Homo sapiens: one gene and its partners. The protein of the gene in region 3 purifies or fractionates together with the protein of the main gene of each other region. This does not show direct contact. Each region holds a gene or a part of one and is shown on either strand. Other genes may lie near its edges.

Region 1 (3,500 bases), about 98 Mb from region 3:
TATTATTATACATGGTAAATGAGATGAAAAAAATGTTTAGAATGTGAATTCACTAGACCTTTGCTGTACTGGATTTCACAGGTGAAAAGATTTCTCTAAGATTTCTGAACTTTTAGTGTCTTCTCACATACTTCTAGTGTAAACAAACACTATAAACTTAACATCTGTATTAATGCTACCTACCTTTTTTAGGATTAATGATTAACGAGATTTTGAAGATACTTCAGTTAAATTCTCAGACACATAATTGTGTATTAACCTTTTTGAAAGGCATTTTCAATGAACACTGGTGGTTTTTTCAGGAAATTGCTGAATACCCACTCACAAATGCAGATATTGATGAAGTAGGATATTTGTATATTTGCTTTTTTTCAATCATTCAGTTTTATGAACATGGGGTCAAAGCGTATTTCAAAATAAAGACCATTTATAAAACTGGACCACTTTAATGTTTACAATTTAATAAATCTCTTCATTGCAGACATGTATGGCTGTTTGGTAGTATTCAGAAACATCACAGTAATGGCAGTTTCTTCAATTGGTGTGTAGTCCTCAATAATTATATATGAAATTGCTGTCAAACCAGTAAGACTGCATTTATACATCCATCATTTTCAGGATTGTTGGTAACCTGGGCATATTTTCCTAAGGAAAACAAAACCAAAAAAGGGAAAAGGGAGGGTTGTTAGCTAATAAAAATTAATTTTAAAGAATATAACTTTTGCCTTTTTTTTCTTTTTGTCTTAATACAGGGTTTCACTCTTATTCCCCAGGCTGCAGTGTGGTGGCGTGATCTGGCTCACTGCAACCTCTGCCTCCTGGGCTCAAGCGATTCTCCTCACTCAGTCTTCCGGGTAGCTGGGACCACAGGCACACGCCACTGCCTGGCTAATTTTTTTGTTTTTGTATTTTGTAGAGATGTGGTTTTGCCATGTTGCCCAGGCTGGGCTCGAACTCCTGAGCTCAAATGATCCGCCTGCCTTGGCCTCCCAAAGTGCTGTGATTATAGGTGTGAGCCACTGCGCCCAGCCATGCCTAAAATATTTCTAATTACCACTTTCAATAAATAAGAAATGAACCATAAAGGATAAATGAGATTTTACAAAATTCAATCATTTAAGGACAAATTTGAGTTCTGAATACAATTTTCATACAAATAGTGTTTTTGCAAATAATGGCCAGCTCCATGTTATTAGTACATTGCATTAACAGGCTTTTGTGGATTGACCTGAGCATTGTCACTTTTTCACATAATTCTTCCTGGAAAATGTATCAAGTTTCAAATGAGTTTCAAGTCAAGGTAACAACATATTTTAAAACTGAGGTCAGCTGACATGAAGTATAAACCAATGACTGAAGAAGTTGTAGCGTGTATTCTTCCCTTTCAAAGAAATTGGATCTGGGTACTAAAGGTAGAAAACTAAGCAAATGAGGGCGTTTAAAATTACTGCATGACACATTTCTGTTTTAATTATTACTGATCTAGTGTGATTATATGTTGTATGCCTCCCTCGGCTCATGGTTAATTTATTCTATTTTTTTTTTACAATTTTTTTTAGTTATAACTTTGCATCTGCTTCCCTTGTAATAAAGAATTTTTATTAAAAAAGATCAAAATATTTTTATTTTACTTATTTTTGAGATGGAGGCTTGCTCTGTCTCCCAGGCCGGAGTGCAGTGGCATGATCTCAGCTCACTGCAAGCTCCAGGTTCATGTGATTCTCCTGCCTCAGCCTCCCGAGTAGCTGGAATTACAGGCACCCACAACCACACCTGGCTAATTGTTTTGTATTTTTAGTAGAGACGGCGTTTTGTCATGTTGGCCAGGCTGGTCTCCAACTCCAGTCTCAAGTGAACCGCCTGCCTCGGCCTCCCCAAGTGCTGGGATTATAGGTGTCAGCCACTGCGCCCAGATAGCGAGGGGGCTTTTTAAAGCCTGGAAGCTTCTACATGATTTCTGAGACCTGTTAATGGGAATTAACAGAACGAACTAAACTGTGTTAAATCACTTTCAATTATTATTATTACTTTTTGAGACAGAGTCTCGCTCTGTCATCCAGGCTGGAGTGCAATGGCACGATCTCAGCTCACTGCAAGCTCCACCTCCCAGGTTCAAGCGATTCTCCTGCCTCAGCCACCGGAGCAGCTGGGATTACAGGTGTGGGCCACAACACCTGGCTAATTTGTGTATTTTTAGTAGAGATGGGGTTTCACCATGTTGGCCAGGCTGGTCTTGAACTCCTGACTGCAGATGATCTGTCCGCCTCAGCCTCCCAAAGTGCTGGGATTACAGGCTGAGCCACCGCTCCTGGCAGTTTCAATGATCAGTTTACCTACGTGGGACAGATAGTTCTATTTCTTTAAATGTAATAGGTATTTTCTCTTAATGTTAGCATGTAAATATAAGAAGTATTTACATAATATAAAGTTGTGGCAAAAGAAATTTTTTCTTACGGAAGACATCTTTAGTCATTGGCTAATACTTCATGTAAGCTGACCTCACTTTTAAAATATGTTTGATATATGCCTCCCTTCCTCTGCTCATGGTTAATTTATTCTATTTTCTTATAATATTTCTTAGTTATAACTTTGCATCTGCTTCCCTTATAATAATTTTTATTAAAAAGGTTAAAAAAATTTTTTTTGAGATGGAGATTTGCTCTGTCTCCCAGTCTGGAGTGCAGTGGCACAATCTCAGCTCACTGCAAGCTCCGCCTCCTGAGTTCAAGTGATTCTCCTGCCTCAGCCTCCCAAGTGGCTGGGATTAGAGGTGCTCGCCACCACACCCGGCTGATTTTTTTGTATTTTTAGTAGAGGTGGGGTTTTGCCATGTTGGCCAGGCTGGTCTCAAACTCCTGACTTCAGGTGATCCACCCGCCTCAGCCTCCCAAAGTGCTGGGATTTACATGCGTGAGCTGCTGTGCCTGGCTAAAAAGGATAAAAATAAATCTAGCAGAATGTATTACACCTTATGTAACTAAAACCAGTAAGCTAAATTTTAAAACAATTGTATTTATAACAACTTTTTCTATAAAGTATTTTTTACTAAATATTTACATCTGATTTACAGTGTTTTAGCTCTACTGCATTAAAAAAATTTGCTGTATATTTTATTAATACATCAACTTGAATAGTATTTCTATTAGTACTGCAGAACACAGCAGCCCTGTATTCAAAAATTCACTTACCCCAAATAACTTTGCCTCCTTGTGTCACAAGGCCCAATTCGCTCACATTTACTTCAATGACAGTACCTTTGGTAATAACACCCAAAGTTGTATACAGTGGGGATGAGGGATTCTTCTTTACACCAAGTATTGGTAGGCAAAAGGTGGCTTTCAGTTCAGGATGTGTTACATGGGCTTTCTTGAAACGCAAGCCCTAGTAAGTCAAACACAACATAAGAATGTTTACGTCCAAAATGTTAACAGTGATGAGTAGTGGTCGTTTTCGCTTATCTTTTTCAACCATCTCCAAAAAACTATGGTTGAATAATGTCA
Region 2 (2,316 bases), on a different chromosome or scaffold from region 3:
GTATGAGGGTGAAAGTGGTTAATCCATGTGAGTCACCTGGCACAGTGCCCAGCCCTGTCATAAGTGCTTCACAAAAGGTAGCCGTTTGTTGTGATCGTTCCCTTTGTGCGATTCGCAGCCCTGGCACGTCTGTGTGCACTAAGTGGGTTTTCAACCTGTGGGTTGTGAATCATGAGTAGGTTGCAATCAGCATAAAAAAAAAATATAATTGAAAATATCCGAAAGTGTCATGTTAAATATTGTTTCATGAGACAGCTGTTTCCACTGGAGTTGTATCTGGGTGTGCCTAAGGATTTATGGACATATATGCACACAATTACGATATAAAACACATTTCCTTGTGTGGGTTACTGTGTTCTTAAGTCCTGGAGCCACTCCCCTATCACATCCATACTGATCTCAGGGCCAGGCATGGTGGCTCACGCCTGTAATCCCGGCATTTTGGGAGGCCAAGGCGGGCGTTATCACCTGGGGTCAGGAGTTTGAGACCAGCCTGGCCAACATGGTGAAACCCCGTCTCTATTAAAAGTAAAAAAATTAGCCAGGGGGCCAGGCGCAGTGGCTCATGCCTGTAATCCCAGCACTTTGGGAGGCCGAGGCGGGCGAATCACCTGAGGTTGGGAGTTCGAGACCAGACTGACCAACGTGGAGAAACCCTGTCTCTACTAAAAATACAAAATTAGCTGGGTGTGGTGGGACATGCCTGTAATCCCAGCTACTCGGGAGGCTGAAGCAGGAGAATAGCTTGAACCTGGGAGGTGGAGGTTGTGGTGAGCCGAGATCGTGCCATTGCACTCCAGCCTGGGCAAAAAGAGCAAAACTCCGTCTCAAAAAAAACTTAGCCAGGCATGGTGGCGTGCACCTGTAATCCCAGCTACTCGGGAGGCTGAGGCAGGAGAATTGCTTGAACTCAGGAGGCGCAGGTTGCAGTGAGCCACGATTGTGCCACTGCACTCCAGCCTGGGTGACAGAGCGAGACTCCATCTCAAAAAACAAAACAAAACAAAACCATACTGATCTCACACCGGTCTTTCATTTTATGCTCACTATTCTGCAAGTTCTGATACAAAGACAAGTCTTGTCCCCGTTTTGCTAGGATTTTCATTCCTGAATGTTTAAGTATGTCCTGGAAGCTTCTAGGGGCAGGAAAGGGTTTGGAAACAGACCTTCCCCTGTGTAATCCTTGCTTTAGGGCAGATAGACTTCTTCCATCAGAAGCCTTCTCTAGTCCCAACCCAGGCCTGTGATGCAGCAGGGCGCGCCACCACTTGCCAGAGCCATGGTGGCTCGGGGTGCCCAGCCCAGGTCCCCCCAGCTACTGCTCCATGTAAGTCATTGTCTTGTGCCTCTTTAGGGAGGGGCTGGAGACAGGTCTGAGGAGGAGGCGTCATCCACGGAGAAACCAACCAAAGCCTTGCCCAGGAAGTCCAGAGACCCCCTGCTCTCTCAGCGGTGAGTCTTGGCCTGCTGCCTCCCCGGTCCCACCCCTCCTGGCTGGCAGTAGTGACCTGGCCCTTAGGGTGGTGTGGAGCAGGTGTAGGGCCCGGAGCAGCCCTCTGCCTGTCCAGTGATCCTCTGCCTCTCCTCATTGCCCCGTCCTGTCCCACCCACCCCTGATAGTGTCTGACCTCCAGTGCTTTTCGTGCCTGGGTGAAGGGCCTGTGTCTCTGAGCTGAGTTGCTGGCAGGCACTCTGGAGGTAGAGCAGGCCAACTCTGGCATGAACTTGGCGGTCCTGGCATTCGCAACCTGTCCTGACATCCCCTCCGTGAGCCAGGTGGTGAGTCACCCCACAATGCAATCTTAAACTGAGGCTTTCTGCCCTCCCCTAGGATCTCCTCCCTCACAGCATCACTACATGCACACAGCCGCAAAAAGGTCAAGAGGAAACATCCCCGACGGGCCCAGGACTCCAAAAAGCCCCCAAGGGCCCCTCGTACCAGCAAGGCCCAGCGCCGCCGTCTCACAGGCAAAGCACGGCACAGCGGGGAGTGAGACCGAGAACGAAGCGGTGCCCCAGTCTAGGCTGCGGGGACCTGTCCTTGCTCAGCTTGGCTGTCCCTGTAGCCCAGCCTGCACCTAGGTAATGACTGCACAGCTCAAGGTTGGGAAGCCAGGACCTCTCTGGCCTGGGGCCAGCTGCCTTTGCCTGGGGTCAGCTGCCTTTGCCTGGGGTTTGAATTCCCGAAGGAGCAGGCAGCTGAGAGCAGGCCTCCCCCAGGAAGAGCCTTCAGAGCCACGTGGGGGCATCTTCCCAAATGTGCACCCCACCTGGCACTCATCAGATTTGTGCGCTTGTGATTTGTTTGTCCTTGAT
Region 3 (3,500 bases):
GTGATAACCACCTGTTGGGAGTGAGAAAACAGGTCTTTATTTCTGCATCCCCACCAGCTATTGAGCAATATAGACATCATAAGTTAAGTAAGACCTCAGCCATTCAGCTTTTAAGGAACTGAAACTCTGGAAGGAAAACAGACCCTGTAACACAATACAAAATAGGAACACAAAGGAAAAATAGCATGTTCCACTAGGTAGGCATGAGGGCTACAGGAAGATATATTCTCTCTTATTCCTCTGAATATTATGTGGTAGGGGAAGTGATGCCTAGAACACTTGGAAGCCTCTTGCAACCAGCTTAAAGACACAGCCATCGGCCGGCCATGATGGCTCACACCTGTAATCCCAACACTTTGGAAAGCCGAGGCGGGCGGATCACGAGGTCAGGAGATCGAGACCATCCTGGCCAACATGGTGAAACCCCATCTCTATTAAAAATATAAAAATTAGCTGGGCGTGGTGGTGTGTGCCTGTAGTCCCAGCTACTTGGGAGGCTGAGGCAGGAGAATTGCTTGAACCCAGGAGGTGGAGGTTGCAGTGAGCCGAGATCGCACCACAGCACTCCAGCCTGGTGACAGAGCGAGCATCCGTCTCAAAAAAAAAAAAAAAAAAAAAAAGACACAGCCATCACCAAGAAAGGCAAAACAGAAAAGAGAAGAGAAGAAAAATCTGGATCCTTGATGATATCACAAAGCTACTGAATCAATCAAGTCCACCTGGCCTGCCTCAGCCAACTGTGCAGGGAGTACCAAAACACCAATAACTTTGAACAGTATTGACACACTCCATGGCTGCTACTGCCACTCAGTCCTTGACCATACCTTGCTTGGGTGAATGCCCACGTGGACAGTTGTGCCGTTGGCCTTCTCACGCTGCACCCGCTCGATGTAGATGACATATTTCTTTCTGTACACCTGGACTACCTTGCCAATTTGCTGACCTTTGTAGTGTCCTCGAACTACCTAAGAGAAAATACAAAAGAGAATCCCCCTCCATTTGTAGTGCATGATCATAAAGAGGAAGCTAACCATCAGGAACACATGGGCTAAACATATAACTTTGTCAAAAGCAGCTTAATCCTGGCAGTCAAAAATTAGCTACTTTTCTGATATAAATCTGTGTTGTGCTATGGTTGGGTGGAGATTTTTTACCTGGATCCCACAGAAATGTGCGATATGAGCTTTAGAGGAAAAAGGAGAATACAAAACTACATATAGAATATACTCTGAACTATATATATATACATATATATGTCAAGTATCCCTTATTCGAAATGCTTGAGACCAGAAGTGTTTTGGATTTAGGGTTTTTGGGATTTTGGAATATCTGCATTACTAGCTAAGCACCCCAAATCTGAAAATCTGAAATCCCAAAAGCTCCAAAGAACACTTCCTTTGACCATCACGTTGACAAAGTCTCAGATTTTGGAGCATTCTGAATTTGAGATACTCAAACTATATGAGTGTATGTGTGTGTGTATATATATAATATATATTACATATGTGCGTATATGTATTTATATGTCATATATACATACACGTATCATATACATACACATATGTACTTATATGTAACATACATATATGTCATACATACATATATGTACTTATATGTCATATATACATATATGTGTATACATACGTATATATGTGTATATATGTATATATACACACACATTTCATATATATAGCATGACACAGTGGGATAAAATATATATATAAATATTGGTAACAGCTGCCATTAGGCAGGAAGCAGGATTACAGATGACTGATTTTTAGATTTATATTCTTCTAAATTTCAACATTTCTACATTTAATACAAATATTTTAAAGTCAGAAAAAAAATTTTAAATCTCACAGACTGTTTTACTGTACTAAAAATCTACTCTATTCAAAAACCAACTAGATTAGGGTTTCCTTGAAAGCAAGAGCTTATTTATTTATTTATTTATTTTTGACACGGAGTCTCGCTCTGTTCCCCCAGGCTGGAGGGCACTGGCATGATCTTGGCTCACTGCAACCTCCACCTCCCAGGTTCAAGTGATTCTCCTGCCTCAGCCTCCCAAGTAGCTGGGATTATAGGCACGCACCAGCAGGCCTGGCTAATTTTTGTATTTTTAGTAGAGACCAGGTTTCGCCATATTGGCCAGGCTGGTCTCGAACTCCTGACCTCAAGTGATCTGCCTGCCTCGGCCTCCCAAAGTGCTGGGATTACAGGTGTGAGCCACCATGCCCAGCCACAAGAGCTTATTAAACACCATGCATGGGGGCCGGGCACGGTGGTTCACACCTGTAATCCCAGCACTTTGGGAGGCCAAAGCCGGTGGATCATGAGGTCAAGAGATCGAGACCATCCAGGCCAACATGGTGAAACCCTGTCTCTACTAAAAATACAAAAATTAGCTGGGCGTGGTGGTGGGCGCCTGTAGACCCAGCTACTCGGGGGGCTGAGGCAGGAGAATCACTTGAACCTGGAAGGCGGAGGTTGCAGTGAGCTGAGATGGTGCCACTGCACTCCAGGCTGGCGACAGAGCGAGACACCGCCTCAAAAAAAAAAAACCACCAGGTACGATGTGACTCTGATTAATAAGCATAGAGGAGATACCACATATAAAGAACTAGAGAACCCCAATACTCCTAAAATGTCTACGTATAGCTTGTTTGGCTTATTTTCCAAGGCGATTTTTAGGTTGAAGAGGACAATCATATCTCAGTGAAAAATCTACCACAGACTACATGACCAGAGACTCTCAGGACACACCTGGAAGAAGTCTTGTTAATACCATCAAGACTGAAGAAATACACACATACACACTTTTTTTAAGAGACAGGGTTTCACTATGCTGCCCAGGCTGGTCTCAAACACCTGAGCTCAAGAGATCCACCCACCTTGGCCTTCCAAAGTGCTGGGATTACATGTGTGAGCCACTGCACCTGGCCAAGACTGAAGAAAGATCTTAGGCCGGGCATGGTGGCTCACAGCTGTAATCCTGGTACTTTAGGAAGCTCAGGCAGGTGGACTGCTTGAGTCCAGGAGTTGGAGACCAGCCGAGGCAACATAGCAAGACCCCGTCTCTACAAAAAAAAAAAAAAAAAAAAAAAAAAAAATAGTTAGCCAGACATGGTGGCATGCGCCTATGATCCCAGCTACTCGGGAGGCTGAGGTGGGAGGATCACTTGAACCCAGGAGGTTGAGTCTGCAGCAACCTGTTTTTGCACCACTGTACTCCAGCCTGGGTGACAGAGTGAGATCCTGTCTCAAAATAAAATAAAATAAAAAATTAATTTAAAAAATTTTTAAAAAGAGAAGTGGACAACCTCTGGACATAGTGAAGAGGAAGACAGGAGACAGGATAAGACTAAGTCGGCTGGTCGACTAGACTGGAGAGGTGAGGATGAAGAGGGAAGGATGATACTCAGAGTCTGGCTTGGGCAACCAGGTGGATGGCAATGCCATTGCCAGATGCAGAGATCATAGGGGAAGCCCCGTATTTTAGG
Region 4 (3,500 bases), on a different chromosome or scaffold from region 3:
TCCCAGGCCATCGTGCTCCAGGGCACACCCCTAAGCACCATGCTACATGCTGAATGACTATCTGGTCATGAAAACTAAAGGCCCCAACCTGTTTGATCTCCCACTTCTCTGGGTCAGAGATTCGGGTGAGGCGCTTGCGTTCCAGTGAGTCGTCCTCTACTTCAGGAGCACTGACAAGGGACAAGTGAGTGGGTCTATCAGGATTCCGCATTGAGGTCTCCTCATTGGTCTCCCCGACAAGATTTCGCCGTCTATTTGGGTTTAGATCTTCTCCAGTCTCTTGATCCACATCCTAAGGCACAAAAACAAGGGAGCTGTCTCACTTGCTGTCCTCTTCCATTCCCTTGGCCATCACATGTAAGAACAGGCTGACCATCTCACCTACCTTCATGCTCAGGCTGGTCTTGGTCCCAGTGAAGGACAGCACTTTGACTTTGACCCTCTGGCCTTTGCTCACGACATCAGCTACATTGGCCACACGACCCTCCCGCCGGAGCTCAGAGATGTGCACCAGGCCTTCCCACCGCTTCCTGAGGGAGAGCCAGACACATCTGGAACATGCCAAAAAATATTTTTCCCCCAACCAATTTCTACCCTTACTGGAACTAACAAAAGAAAATGGTCTTAAACTCAAGAGAAAAGTACCATGAAGGTGGTCAAACAATAAAATAGTATTAACACTCTCCTCATGGGGAGACATGGGGTGGGGAAGCAAATTCTATCTGTCCCAACAAGCAAAGGACAGATCTCCTGAAGACAGAGAAAGGAATAAATGGCTCTGTAACATTTCAAAAGAGTCAATTTCTAAGAACCATGTATGGCTGATTTGACTAAAGTGTCATTAATCAAAGTAACTTTTTAGAATGTGAACATCCTCAGTGATAAAAGAAATTCTGCCCATCACTGGTGTGAACAAAAGAGCACCAGTCATTACCTTAGTCCTTCCAGCTGCACAAAGCAACCAAACTGCATGATGCTGGTAACTTTGCCATTATAAATGTCACCAATGGTGGGCTCTTCTGGAGGAGGGCGGTCCACATGCTTATCCCGCCATCTATCCAGATTCCGCTCTCCATATTTGTCCCGGTCCTTCCGGTCTTTGGGGGGACTCTGACTCCTGCTCCTGGACCGATATCTAGACTTCACTTTATTCCTCTCCCGGGTCCTGGAACGTGATCGAGAGCGGGATCGGTGTCTCCGCTTGTGGTCTCTATCTCGGTTTCGTTCCCTATCTCTGTCTCGATCTCGGTTTCGATCTCGGCTTCGACTCCGCTTCTTCTTCTTTGTCCTGTCCCTAACAAATCAATAAGCACCTGTTTAAAAAAGAAACCAATCCGATTTCATCTTCGCATCCCCAAGCACCCAGTACAGTGCCATGCACATGGTAGGTACCCACTAGGTTTTGAACTGAATTAGAGTTTCAATAACTACGACATCCCTATAAGCCAATAAAGAATTGAGCCACAAACATATTCAGCCTCTTTCAACCCTGACTTCTATATTCTGAACAACCTAGCATTTGCTACATACACTTAGCAGGAAGCAATGAAAACAGATCCAACAATATGATATATGACCAGTCCAGATTCTGTAAACTTGCCCAAAATTTTGCTTGGCTGGTCCATAATATTCAACTGTCACAGTACCCTAAACTTCCAAAGGACAGGACACTAAGGACAAACCGGTGTTCAGCATCTCTTTGCTTCTCCTGGCCTGCTGCGCTGGGCATTAAAGCTTCCAGTTCTTTCAGGACATCCACAGCAACTTTCACATCATCTTCATCCAACATGGTCTGCAGAGGTAGAGGCCGGCAAAGTTAGGAAAAAAAACTACTCAAGAATCTGTATGTACCTCAGGTACATCTATAAATCACTAATCACTATGTGAGGGAAATAGAAGAGGGGCAGAGATTTCAAACTTGATTCAGGATAGATGCAGAAGAAATGGAAAAAAGGCTCTTGAGAATTACTGCTACATTTGACAAATCCCCTCTGTCCTTAATAGAATTCTATGAAAGGCAGTTAGATATTAATCATCCCTGCCATGAAAGAATGCAAGTGATGATTATATTAATAGAAAACAGGTGTTAAAAATTTTAAAAAGCAACTCTCCCTCTGCACTCTTCCTCCCTACCCCCACTCCAGCTTTATTTTTTTAAATAGCCCTTATTGCTATCTGCTATGTTACATACCTATTTGTTTGTTTATTGCCTATCTCCTCCCCACCAGAATGTTTACATGTTTATTTCCTGCTCCCTACCCCAAAATTAGGATATAATCTCCAAAGGCTGAAACTCTTGTCTGTTCTGTTCACTGCTGTTATCCAGGTACTTAGAACAGTGTTTGGCATACAGTAAGTACTCAATAAATATTTATTAAAATGAAATTTAAAAATCAAAATGCTTTAAAAATTAGACCTTTAACAAGTAACAGAGCAAAAAAAAAAAATCTAATTTCACACCTTAGGCATCTGTTCCAGAACCTTATTTCATATTCCTAATCACTACTTCCCCAAATTCCCAATCTCATTTCCCTTGAATATCATTCTCAGAACCCCTTAACAAATTCAATACATAGTACATGCTCAGGGAGTGATCAAACACTTTCATTCTTAAAAATAAGTTACAACAAAGGCAAACTTAAAATTAATAAAATTACTATGAGACAAAGAAAAGGGGTTGAGAATATATATTTATAGTAGACACTCTTAAAATGGTATCAGTACCCGAACAGAAGGGTTGTCCGGTTGGCAAAGGACTGGGAAGAGTTCCTTCAGCTTTTCTTTTTCTGTTTTAGGTTTAACAACTGGATCTTGTTTCATTAAAGAGCATGAAGGGGTTAAAAAAAGAGATATATATTTAATATTATTAATGATTAACAAAATAACTTCAACAATAGATTTGTATCAAACTGAAACAGAACATGGCATTTTGCTATATATTAATCATACCTGTTACTATAAATGTAATTTAATTTTCTAAATACATTGATCACAAACTATCTCGAAATGTAGCAGAAAGAGGAGTGTAGCAATACTCATTGGGTTATGTCTTATCTTTTTTATTTTGTCTTAAGTCGTTTGAAATTTTTTTTCCCCTTGAAACGGGGAAAAAAACCTCTGTCACTCAGGCTAAAGTACATTGGTGCAACTATGGCTCACTGCAGCTTCACCCTTTTGGACTCAAGCAACACTCCTTCCTTAGCCTCCCAAGTAGCTGGAACTACGGAGGCACGCCATCATGCCTGGCTAATTTTTTTATTTTTTTGTAGAGATGAGGTCTCTCTATGTTGCCCAGGCTGGTCTAAAACTCCTGGGCTCAAGTGATACTCCCACCTTGGCCTCCCAAAGTGCTGGGATTCCAGCAGTGAGCCGCTAGGCCCAGCCCATTTGAAAAATCTTACTGGAACATTTACTTGCTCAGCAACTGCTGAGAGGAAAACAAATGCAATTTACAGGATGTTCAAAACCTACACCATTCTAGAAGCTAAGCTCAGCTGGAA
Region 5 (3,500 bases), on a different chromosome or scaffold from region 3:
TACAAAATTAGCCGGGGTGGTGGCGCATGCCTGTAATGCCAGCTACTCGGGAGGCTGAGGCAGAAGAATCGCTTGAACCCCGGAGGCGGAGGTTGCGGTGAGCCAAGATCACACCATCGCACTCCAGCCTGGGCAACAAGGGTGAAACTCCATCTCAAAAAAGAAAAAAAAGTTTAGTCAAAAAACTGGCTGGGCACGTGGCTCATGCCTATTATTCCAACACTTTGGGACGCTGAGGTGGGTGAATCACCTGAGGTCAGGAGTTCGAGACCAGCCTGGCCAACGTGGAGAAACCCCGTCTCTACTAAAAATACAAAAATTAGCCAGACGTGGTGGTGTGCACCTGTAATCCCAACTACTTGGGAGGCTAGAGGCAGGAGAATTGCTTGAACCCAGGATGTGGAAGTTGCAGTGAGTCAAGATTGTGGTAAGTGCTAGGCTAGGTACTTTACAAGGTACAAAGCTGCCCCCTCCCCTCCCCACAACAAACCACAAAAAAGATTTCACGAATATTTACCAAAGAAGGAAAATCATAGTCAATTCCTTTTTTAGCTAATTTCTTCCTGAGTAATCTTTCTTTCTTTTTAAATCGCTCCTCCATCCGTAGCTTTTGTGTTAGTGTCCGATTCCGATTATACCGTTTCACTGATGGATATGATGGCTGCTTAAATGGAATATTCCAGTCTTTAAAGAGTTCTTTATGTACTTTTTCAGGTGGCATAAAATGACCTATTTTCAAAAAGAAAAAAACATAAAGGTATTTTAATGTTAACTTTAGAATCTCCGCAGTGCCATTCCTCACACAACAAAATGATATGGCTGGGTACAGTGGCTCACACCTGTAATCCCAGCTTCTCTCACAGCAATGCGAAGTGAATAGAGAGACAAGACCTGGGCAGCCTTGTCAGCTGTGAACTTGGGTACCTAAGACGGCCACATGCCACCATGGGCACAGGGAAGCCAGAAACTTCGCTTTGCCTCCCAAGGGCAGCAGGATCTGGACAGGGATGCTCTCTGCACCCTATGGACTGCAGGGTAGGGGGCTTCACTGGCTTCTTTCTGCAGGATAAATTACTCATCTGGTGCGTCACTCCTCCACTCCCTCTGGCTTCTCTCGTGTGGAAGAGCTACAGCCATTGCCATTTAGACAGATTTTGCAACGCGATTCCTGACCTTTGATGCTATCCCCACTGCCCTCAGGATAAATTCGGAACTCGCTGACTTAGAAGGCCTTCAGTAACCTGACCTGAAGCCTCTTCTTGCTCCTTCATCTCTTGCTACTTTTCCTCACATTCTCTCACAGCTGAATGGTTAGGCATCATTGGTTTGGCATTCACTGTCCCTCAGCCAGGAATGGTCTGTCTTCACTCCTGTCCCCTTCACCTGGCTCACTCCTGTTTAGTCTTCAGGTTTCAATGTCAACTATACTTCCTTAGAGAAGCCTTTCACAGCCCATAAGGATGGGTTAGCTGCTCCTCCCATGTGTCCCCAAGGTAACTTGTCCAGTTCCATTTAGGGTAAAAACAGCTCTCAGGCTAGATTTTAAAATTCCAATTAGAATCTGCCTGCAACATACACTGAAATCCTTGCACCATTCTGTAAGACTCATCCCAGAGATGAAGTGGCATGTCCAAGCAGCTAGGCAAGCCGCCCTTCCCACCACAGTCACCCACCAACAGCAGGCACCCAGGCAACCCTGCGGTAAGACAGGAGCACTTACACTCCAAGAGTCTTTCACCAAACAGGTAGTTGTTCATTGTTTCAGCAACTATTTTGGCAACATCCTCAGACTCAAACTCCACAAATGCATAGCCTTTGCTATTTCCAGTCTGCAACAGAGAAACCGCCACAAAAAGTAGAACAATTAAATTTGAATGCGTCATCAAATTCCTAAAATGCCATTATTTTAAATAATGTATATTAGCCCCTTATCAAATATTACGTACGACACGCTTAATTCTAACTTCAATTCACATATTCCGGGGACTGTTATGGGAAAAAGAAAAGATGCACGAGTCTGAACACACAGCTGATTTTCTGGTATTCTTGGGATTTTGGTTACATATGATAAATACACAATTCCTATGGCTGGAATTTATTCAGTAACAACACTCCGTGATATTAAAAAAGTCTTCAACTTAAAAGTCACATGGCTTAACAGTGGGAATCAGGAGGCTCATTTCCAGCACCAGTTGTGTCAGTAACAAGCAACTTGGACACTTCCACAACTGAGTCTCAGCTTAATTATCTTCAACAGGTGGATTCTGGGAAAAATTTAAATCCCTCAAAATCCATTTATAATCCCAACACTCAAAAGAGAGGGGAAGGCCAGGCGCGGTGGCTCACCCCTGCAATCTCAGCACTTTGGGAGGCCGAGGGTGGATCATCTGAGGTGAGGAGTTCAAGACCAGCCTGGTCAACACGGTGAAACCCCATCTCTACTAAAAATATAAAATATTCACTTTGGGAGGCCAAGGAGGGTGGATCTCAAGGTCAGGGGTTTGAGACCAGCCTGGCCAACATGGTGAAACCCCATCTCTACTAAAAATACAAAAAATTAGCTGGGCATGGTGACATGTACCTGTAATCCCAGCTACTCAGGAGGCTGAGCCAGAAGAATCACTTGAACCTGAGAGGCAGAGGTTGTAGTGAGCTGAGATCGCGCCACTGCACTCCAGCCTGGGCAACAGAATAAGACTCCATCTCAAAAAAGAAAAACTAGGCCAAGAGGGGTGGCTCATGCCTGTAATCCCAGCACTCCAGGAGGCCGAGGTGGGTGGATCACCTGAGGTCAGGAGTTCGAGACCAGCCTGGCCAAAATGGTGAAACCGTGTCTCTACTAAAAATACAAAAATTAGGCCGGGCACAGTGGCTCACACCTGTAATCCCCACACTTTGGGAGGCCGAGGCAGGTGGATCACCTGAGATTGGGAGCTCAAAATCATCCTGACCAATATGGTGAAACCCCATCTCTACTAAAAATACAAAAATTAGCTGGGTGTGGTGGTGCACGCCTATAATCCCAGCTATTCAGGAGGCTGAGGCAGGAGAATCACTTGAATCCGAGAGGCTGAGGGTGCAGTGAGCCAAGACTGTGCCACTGCACTCCAGCCTGGGCAACAGAGTGAGACTCCATTTAAAAAAAAAAAAAAAATTAGCCAGGCATGGTGGCAGGCACCTATAATCCCAGCTACTCGGGAGGCTGGGGCAGGAGAATCACTTGAATCCGGGAGGCGGACATCGCAGTCAGCTGAGGAACTGTGCCACTGCACTCCAGCCCGGGCGACAGAGTGAGACTCCGTCGCAAACAAAACAAAACCAAAACAAAACAAAAAAAAAATGAATAGAATGAAATAGAAAATCAGCGCATCACACAAAACAAGTTTAAATATTGTCTCATTTGGCTTTTATTTCAGTTATGCTTACATGCATATGTATGTGTGCTGGTTTGTGCTGTAAAACTTTTTTTAAAACCCTCATCTTCTTTGTGATGGTAAAAA
Region 6 (3,500 bases), on a different chromosome or scaffold from region 3:
TAGTCGGCTAATCCAACCTCCCATATCCACACCATACTCTTCTCTAATGACTGAAAATTCATAAATAAAATTAAGTTCCAGGACCACCAGAGCACAGGACTCATTCAACAGTCCTCAATATTCTTATGTGGTTGAAGCGTTTAATATCTAATTTAATCATAATCTGAAATGTTCTTAAAAAGTGGTTATTTTTTAAATCTCAAAGTAAGTATCAAGGTAAGTTGTTGGTACAGTCATTTAAATTTCAGCTCCATTTTAAAAAATTAATTGGAGGACAAAAATCAGCAGGGAATATTTCAAGATATTTTCTTTTATTAACTATTTAGACTGGATACTGTCTGTTGACATACAAATTTGATCCACTTTAACTAATATGAATGTTAAAAAGACACCCTTACAAAACTGGGACAGTTTTCCCCCAAATTTCTGGCTTATTTCTCAGAAATGCTTGTTGGTCTATCAAAAGAGAAAATTTGCTGCATTTTTCTAAACTAAAAAAATGATAGAGCATGTTGATTCTGCTCTCAGCAATATCTTTCCTTGTTAAATAGGGAACTTATGGGGATTATGGACTATATTAGGAGAAATGTTTTCAGTCTCATCTGCAATATTTATAAAAATAGGATTCCTTGACCTTCAAAGGGCAAAACTTAAAAAAAAAATGAAAATGAAAAAAGAAAATCTACTACAAAAGTCAGCACTTCGGTACCTGGTTGTGGTAATAAGGCCAAAATCCAAGACGAAGCCCTTTATTGCACATGGTGTTCCAACATCTTGGGCAGCCCCATCTTGCGACCTCTCCACATTGGCTGCTCCTGCTCTCTCTACTGCAGAGAGAACTTCAATTAGAGAAATTCTGAAGCTCATAAATCTAAACTGGATACTCCCCTCATTGGAGGCAAAGATGGTAAGACTCACTAAAAAGATTCAAGTTAGAGGAGGTTTCAAATAAATCTAAGTGGCTTGAAACCACTATAATTCAGGCAGCTGAGAGTCTTATTACGGCAACAATCTATTTACCTAAAAAAATATATATATATTAAGGGAAAAGAATGGCAGCAAATTACTAGACAACCTGAAAAAACAGAACATATAATCATAAAAGTTTAAAAAGTGAAAGTCTCCACTAAAGTTGAATTTATAATATATACTGCAGAAACTTATAGCTGACCATTTATATTCAATTCTTACGAGAAAAGCAAGTAAGAAAAAAACTAGGACACATTATTAACTTCTTATTCCCTAAAATAACTTCACTGAAAAAAATGTTTGGTTAAAACCACTGGTTAAGAAGCAGACGTTTCCCTGCTGACTTAAGCCTAGCTGCCCATGCAAGGCTTCAAAAAATGTCTTCACCTACAACAATGTATAGGCAGAAGGAGCAGAGGCTATGGCGGTCTTCCTAATGACACTTCCAAGTCACATAAATGGGGTATATTTCTGGGATGGACTGCCAACAAGTTACTGAAAGAGATATAAAAACTCCAAAAACCTGGCATATAAACAGGCCCATGCCCTCACGTGTTTTATTATGATATAAAAGCAAATCTTAACTAAAGTTATCCTGAGACTAACAGATCTCAATCACATCCTCCATACTAACATTACCCGATTTGTGAAAGACCAGGTAAGTTTTCAAGCTAGTTTTCCATAAAGATTTGTAATGATGTATAACATGTATAAAGCATTCCCTCCAGTAAAGAAGAAGCCCCACCCGAACTCAGTAATTAAGATTTTTCAATTAGAGGAAGAGACAAACAATTTGAAGCACCTTTATTACCATAAATTTGTTATCAAAAATGTGCTGGTATGTGCTGTGCGACAGAAAGAGGTTAATTCTGTTTAGAATCGTATTTACTAATTTTTAACAACAATTTTTATCTTACCTGAGTGTGAAAATTTGAAATGGTGGTTGTTTCAATATCTTTCTTGCCCAGAATTTCCATTTTCACTGGAGTGTTGGGGAAATTAAAAGCAAAGTAGTCCAAGAAGTCTGGGAGATAAGCAGCCGCTCCATGCACTATTGCTAAAGCATAGTAAGCAGCATTTTTCTCATTTTCACTGAATGTCAAAGCAAGAAACTCCTCAGAAAATCTCTCCATCTCCATTGGAGACAAAAATGAGAGTTCATCCATGTAAGCATGAAGGACAAGAGCACCACCATTGGACTGGTGTTCCTCATGAATAAAGTTGCTAAATTTAGTACCTGTTTTTAAGAAATTTCTACGAATAGAATGTTCCTGGTGAGTCATAAAAGGTGTTTGTACTCCCTGGGGTACCCGATATTCTTGCATACCCAAATTTAATCGGCACAGCTGTTCATCTTTCAGATACCTGAAGGACTCCTTATTAAGTCCTGAAGTGCTATTTATTTGTCCTTGGGTGAGAATTTCTTTACTGATGCGGGTCAGGCCAGCACAGACGGTTTGTACTTCCTTATTGTACATTTTAAGGCGTCTTCCTCGCATGTCTTCTCGGTGTTTCTTTTTCTTTTTCTTCTTTATTTTCTTCAAGACAAAATCATCGGCTCTCTGGGTTTTACCATTTTCATCTGGTGTTTCTGGCCACAATAATTAAAAAGAAGTTAGTTGCTAGGACTAGTGTCAACATACAAGCTTCTTAAGGTACTTGATCTCATTAAATAGCCTATCCTCAATTTCTCTGAATTTGCTATTACAACTTACGTGTTTAGAAAACAAATGAGACAGAGATCTTAAATATAATAATATTCTGGATTGAAGAAAAGAATAAAATTGAAGGTATCCATTTTTCAAAGCAGTATATTACTGATAATGGAGAAAAATCAGAAATAATTCACACATCCAAAAAACAGAGAATGGTTAAATAAATCATGATATAGCAATGGTATGAAACATTATACGATAGCTAAATATGATGATTCTGAAATCTATGTAACAACATAGATTCTTTTGTTCAGTTATCATCATAAAATTTAAATTTAAGCTAGGCATATTTTGCTGTCAGCCTATGAATTACTATGATACATACAGGTAAATCAACAAAGGCAAAGTAAGCCATGAGATATCATTTTTTCCTATCAAGTTGGCAAAGTCTGCGGTTTCTGGTCATTCTCAACTACTACTGCTGGAAGTATAAACTGGTACAACTTTCTGAAGGGCAATTTCATGATACATGTTAAAAGTCTTAAAAAATATTTCTAATCCTCAGACCCAGAAATTCCACTTCCAAGTAAAAGTTATCTAAGAAAATAATTGAAGATTATATAAAGATATCCATTACAGTATTATTTAAAACGACACAACAGGGAATGCTCCTAAATGTCTAATAACAGGGGACTGATTAAACTCTGGTAGTTACATATTATAAAACACTACTCAGCCATTGTAAAGTATATTATAGATGAAAAAACTGACATAAAAATTAGAAGGTTACAAAATGCTTAGACTCATTCTTTCAGAAAGCCTTTTCTTCCCCACCCAATCTGGATAGCTACTCCTGCTATGGGCTCCCTTAAGCTT
Region 7 (3,500 bases), 1.6 Mb from region 3:
AGTAGCTGGGATTACAGGCATGTGCCACCACACCTGGCTAATTTTTGTGTTTTTAGTAGAGACGAGGTTGTTACCATGTTGTCCAGGCTGGTCTCAAACTCCTGACCTCATGATCTGCCCGCCTCAGCCTCCCTAAGTGTTGGGATTACAGGCATGAGCCACCAAGCCCGGCCCTTTCCTATGCTTAGATGCACAAATACTGTGTTTCGGTTGCTTACAGTATTCAGTACAGTAACACTGTACAGGTTTGTAGCCTAGGTGTGTGTAGTAGGCTATACCATCTAGGTTTGTATAAGCACATTCTTATGATTGTACAAAGATGAAATTGTCTAACAACACATTTCTCAGAACCTAGCCCTGTGGTTAAGTGACGCATGGCTGCATATAACATTTAGTGGGGGGGTGTAAAATAGGTGGAACTCAAAAGTTGAAGTAGTATTTTTTTTTTGTTCACAGGTCAGTTTAGGGGCTGGTGCAAAGGATGAGTTGCACATTGTTGAAGCAGAGGCAATGAATTACGAAGGCAGTCCAATTAAAGTAACACTGGCAACTTTGAAAATGTCTGTACAGCCAACGGTAAGGGCACTTACATACTTTGGATGTTGTGTCAAGGTTTAATTCTGTTTTAAGGTAGGTTTGGTGTCATTTAGTTGTGCCAAGGAGATAGAAAGTGGTTCTTTATCTTCTGTCACTGGAGTTCGATGGTCAACTCTTGAACATGGGGGCTTCTGCTGCTACTTTTATCAGAGGTGGAAAAACAGGTTCACTGGTTTGTTGATTTGGCTTATGTGTTTGCCTGTAATGTTTATTGTTCATTTTCTTCACATGTTTAGTGATGAAAAATTTCTCCCTTCTAGGTTTCCCTTGGGGGCTTTGAAATAACACCACCAGTGGTCTTAAGGTTGAAGTGTGGTTCAGGGCCAGTGCATATTAGTGGACAGCACTTAGTAGGTATGTTATTTTTATATATTATACTACTTAGTTTGTCCTCTTTAGTGCAGTTGCTTGGTTCCCAGTTTGGACTTAAAGCATGGGTATAGTACTACTGTCTTTTTAATAGGTTCCAATGTGAGTCTAGAAATTGGAGAGGACAAATAAATTTTTGGGGCGGGGGGGAGAGGAAATCTTGCTGTCACCCAGGCTAGAGTACAGTGGCACGATCTTGGCTCACTGGAACCTCTCCGGGATTCAAGCGATCCTCCTGTCTCAGCCTCCCCAGTAGCTGGGGCCACAGACGTGCACCACCAAGTCCAGTTGCGTTTCATAGTTATAGTAGAGAAGGGGTTTCGTGATGTTGGCCAGGCCGATCTTGAACTCCTGGCCTTAACGTGATCTGCACGCCCTGGCCTCTCAAAGTGCTAGTATTACACGTGTCAGCCACTGTGCCTGGCCTAAAAATTATTTTTTAATAAAGACAGTCTCATTATAACGGCTGGAGTGCAGTGATGTGATCATAGCTTGCTATATCCTCGAACTGCTACTGGGTTCACCTCAGCCTCTGGAATAGCTAGAACTACAGGCACACTCCACGCCTGGCTAATTTTTTTTGTATATGTGCAGATGGGGTCTCAGTATGTTGCCCAGATTGGACTCTTGGCCTCAAGTGGTCCGCCTTGGCCTCCCCAAAGTGAGATTACAGGCATGAGCCACCCTCCCCAGGCTTCTTGCATTTAAAACCTGGCAGTGAACATTAGGCCTCAAAATACTTTTGTTAAAAAGTTCCTTTTCCCATGTGCTCTTTTTTTTTTTTTTTTTAAATAGAATAGAAGTCTCAGTTTTTAGAGTATTTACTATCAGTGTTCTTTTTTTTTCTGACTTCTTGCTGCTTGAGTTTTATAATGTCTAATAAATTGTATTTTAGCTGTGGAGGAAGATGCAGAGTCAGAAGATGAAGAGGAGGAGGATGTGAAACTCTTAAGTATATCTGGAAAGCGGTCTGCCCCTGGAGGTGGTAGCAAGGTTCCACAGGTAGAGATGGCAATTTTATTATAGGTTTTGTATTATAGCTTTTAGTTTGGTGATAGAACAGCTCTTGTTCATGAGTACGTATCTTTTCTTTTAAAAGAAAAAAGTAAAACTTGCTGCTGATGAAGATGATGACGATGATGATGAAGAGGATGATGATGAAGAGTAAGTATGATTTTAGAAACTTGATATACTTCCGGAATCTTGACAAAAAAAGGAATTTGACATAGTTATATGCATGAGGGTTTTATAAAAGTCATTTACAAAAAGCCATCCTATGTAATAGTTTATAATAAAAGGGCAGGTGGTCATCTGTTGTCAGTTTAAGTTAAATGAGCTGAGTTGAAAGGATATTGGGTCTGTGAGCCTTTACAATGCTGTGACTTGTGACTCTTCAGAAGGGTAGACTATAGTGTTTGTGAAGTTTGATTATGTCCCTTTGTTCTGAAGATTTAGTGGATGTGTTATACCCATCAAGCCTGGTATGTTTTATGGTGAGCAGTTAATGAGATTGGGTTGAAAGAAAATATGATTAAATAGCTCTATATTCATTTTACAAGTTGTTACTCAAGGTTTGTTATTCCCTAAAAGGATTTTGTCTTATGGTTTTATGTAGATATTTATTGACAAAAATAAGATTCTAAAAGGGATATTAAGATTTTCTTGGGATTTAAAATATGGTTGGAAACAATATTTGATGACTTTATATTAAACTAGATCAAACTATTGTTACAAACAGTTAATACGCACACTGGTATAAAGTACTGTTTATAATTGGTCTTATGTGTGCCAGTACCAGTAATGCATTGAATACTTTGATTTGGCTCTCAGCTTTGTCCTTCAGTTCTGAGGTTGGTCCATATGCATTTATTGAAAACAAATATAAGAACATGCACTTTAAAAGAGAACCTGCATGAAAGATCAAATTGGGAGTTTAGGTTTTAAGCTGGTGGTTCTTCAAAATCTTTGAGCATGACGATGAAGGCAGAAAACAGGAAAAAGGCCGAAAGAGCCGAAAGCTTAAAAATTCAAAGTATGACCAGGCGCAGTGGTTCACACCCGTAATCCTAACACCCAGCCAAGATGAGAGGATCTCTTGAGGCCAGCCCGGTCAAAATAGCAAGACCCAATCTCAAAAGAAAAATAAAAATTCAAAGTACTTGCATGTCAAACTTATAAATGAACGCAAACTTAAAGGTAGTATTTGACTGTTGCTGTTTTTGTTTTCTTTTTTTTTTTTTTTTTTTTTGAGATGGAGTCTCCAGTTGCTCAGGCTGGAGTGCGGTGGCGCCATCTCGGCTCACCACAACCTCTGCCTCCTGGGTTCAAGCGATTGTCCTGCCTCAGCCTCCCGGGTAGCTGGGACTGCAGGCTCGGGGCACCATGCCCTGCTAATTTTTGTATTTAGTAGAGACAGGGTTTCAGTATGTTGGTCCGGCTGGTCTTGAACTCCTAACCTCGTGATCTACCTGCCTCGGTCTCCCAAAGTGCTGGGATTGCAGATGTGAACCACTGCGCCCAGCCAAATTTTTGTA

Evidence for each region.
Region 1: the proteins of RPL26L1 (region 3) and NSA2 purify together in Homo sapiens (affinity purification with mass spectrometry; 3 studies listed by BioGRID and IntAct, with this or other methods). This does not show direct contact.
Region 2: the proteins of RPL26L1 (region 3) and NOL12 purify together in Homo sapiens (affinity purification with mass spectrometry; 3 studies listed by BioGRID and IntAct, with this or other methods). This does not show direct contact.
Region 4: the proteins of RPL26L1 (region 3) and DHX8 purify together in Homo sapiens (affinity purification with mass spectrometry; 3 studies listed by BioGRID and IntAct, with this or other methods). This does not show direct contact.
Region 5: the proteins of RPL26L1 (region 3) and NIFK purify together in Homo sapiens (affinity purification with mass spectrometry; 3 studies listed by BioGRID and IntAct, with this or other methods). This does not show direct contact.
Region 6: the proteins of RPL26L1 (region 3) and RSBN1 purify together in Homo sapiens (affinity purification with mass spectrometry; 3 studies listed by BioGRID and IntAct, with this or other methods). This does not show direct contact.
Region 7: the proteins of RPL26L1 (region 3) and NPM1 purify together in Homo sapiens (affinity purification with mass spectrometry; 3 studies listed by BioGRID and IntAct, with this or other methods). This does not show direct contact.

The regions. Positions count from the first base shown.
Region 1 is NC_000005.10:74,773,749-74,777,248, reverse strand, and holds part of NSA2 (ribosome biogenesis protein NSA2 homolog), read right to left. Parts: intron 3,382-3,500; coding exon 3,189-3,381; intron 646-3,188; coding exon 578-645; 3' UTR 1-577. UniProt on the Homo sapiens protein: Involved in the biogenesis of the 60S ribosomal subunit. May play a part in the quality control of pre-60S particles.
Region 2 is NC_000022.11:37,689,343-37,691,658, forward strand, and holds part of NOL12 (nucleolar protein 12), read left to right. Parts: intron 1-1,354; coding exon 1,355-1,452; intron 1,453-1,831; coding exon 1,832-1,994; 3' UTR 1,995-2,316. UniProt on the Homo sapiens protein: Multifunctional RNA binding protein that plays a role in RNA metabolism and DNA maintenance. Participates in the resolution of DNA stress and the maintenance of genome integrity by localizing to sites of DNA insults.
Region 3 is NC_000005.10:172,965,924-172,969,423, reverse strand, and holds part of RPL26L1 (ribosomal protein uL24-like), read right to left. Parts: intron 966-3,500; coding exon 825-965; intron 12-824; coding exon 1-11.
Region 4 is NC_000017.11:43,490,475-43,493,974, reverse strand, and holds part of DHX8 (ATP-dependent RNA helicase DHX8), read right to left. Parts: intron 2,811-3,500; coding exon 2,725-2,810; intron 1,793-2,724; coding exon 1,683-1,792; exon of another isoform or gene 1,601-1,682; intron 1,314-1,600; exon of another isoform or gene 1,295-1,313; coding exon 935-1,294; intron 531-934; coding exon 386-530; intron 293-385; coding exon 89-292; intron 1-88.
Region 5 is NC_000002.12:121,730,376-121,733,875, forward strand, and holds part of NIFK (MKI67 FHA domain-interacting nucleolar phosphoprotein), read right to left. Parts: intron 1,830-3,500; coding exon 1,721-1,829; intron 730-1,720; coding exon 518-729; intron 1-517.
Region 6 is NC_000001.11:113,795,477-113,798,976, forward strand, and holds part of RSBN1 (lysine-specific demethylase 9), read right to left. Parts: intron 2,561-3,500; coding exon 1,887-2,560; intron 828-1,886; coding exon of another isoform or gene 825-827; exon of another isoform or gene 1-824. UniProt on the Homo sapiens protein: Histone demethylase that specifically demethylates dimethylated 'Lys-20' of histone H4 (H4K20me2), thereby modulating chromosome architecture.
Region 7 is NC_000005.10:171,390,849-171,394,348, forward strand, and holds part of NPM1 (nucleophosmin), read left to right. Parts: intron 1-456; coding exon 457-576; intron 577-857; coding exon 858-951; intron 952-1,861; coding exon 1,862-1,968; intron 1,969-2,065; coding exon 2,066-2,130; intron 2,131-3,500. UniProt on the Homo sapiens protein: Involved in diverse cellular processes such as ribosome biogenesis, centrosome duplication, protein chaperoning, histone assembly, cell proliferation, and regulation of tumor suppressors p53/TP53 and ARF.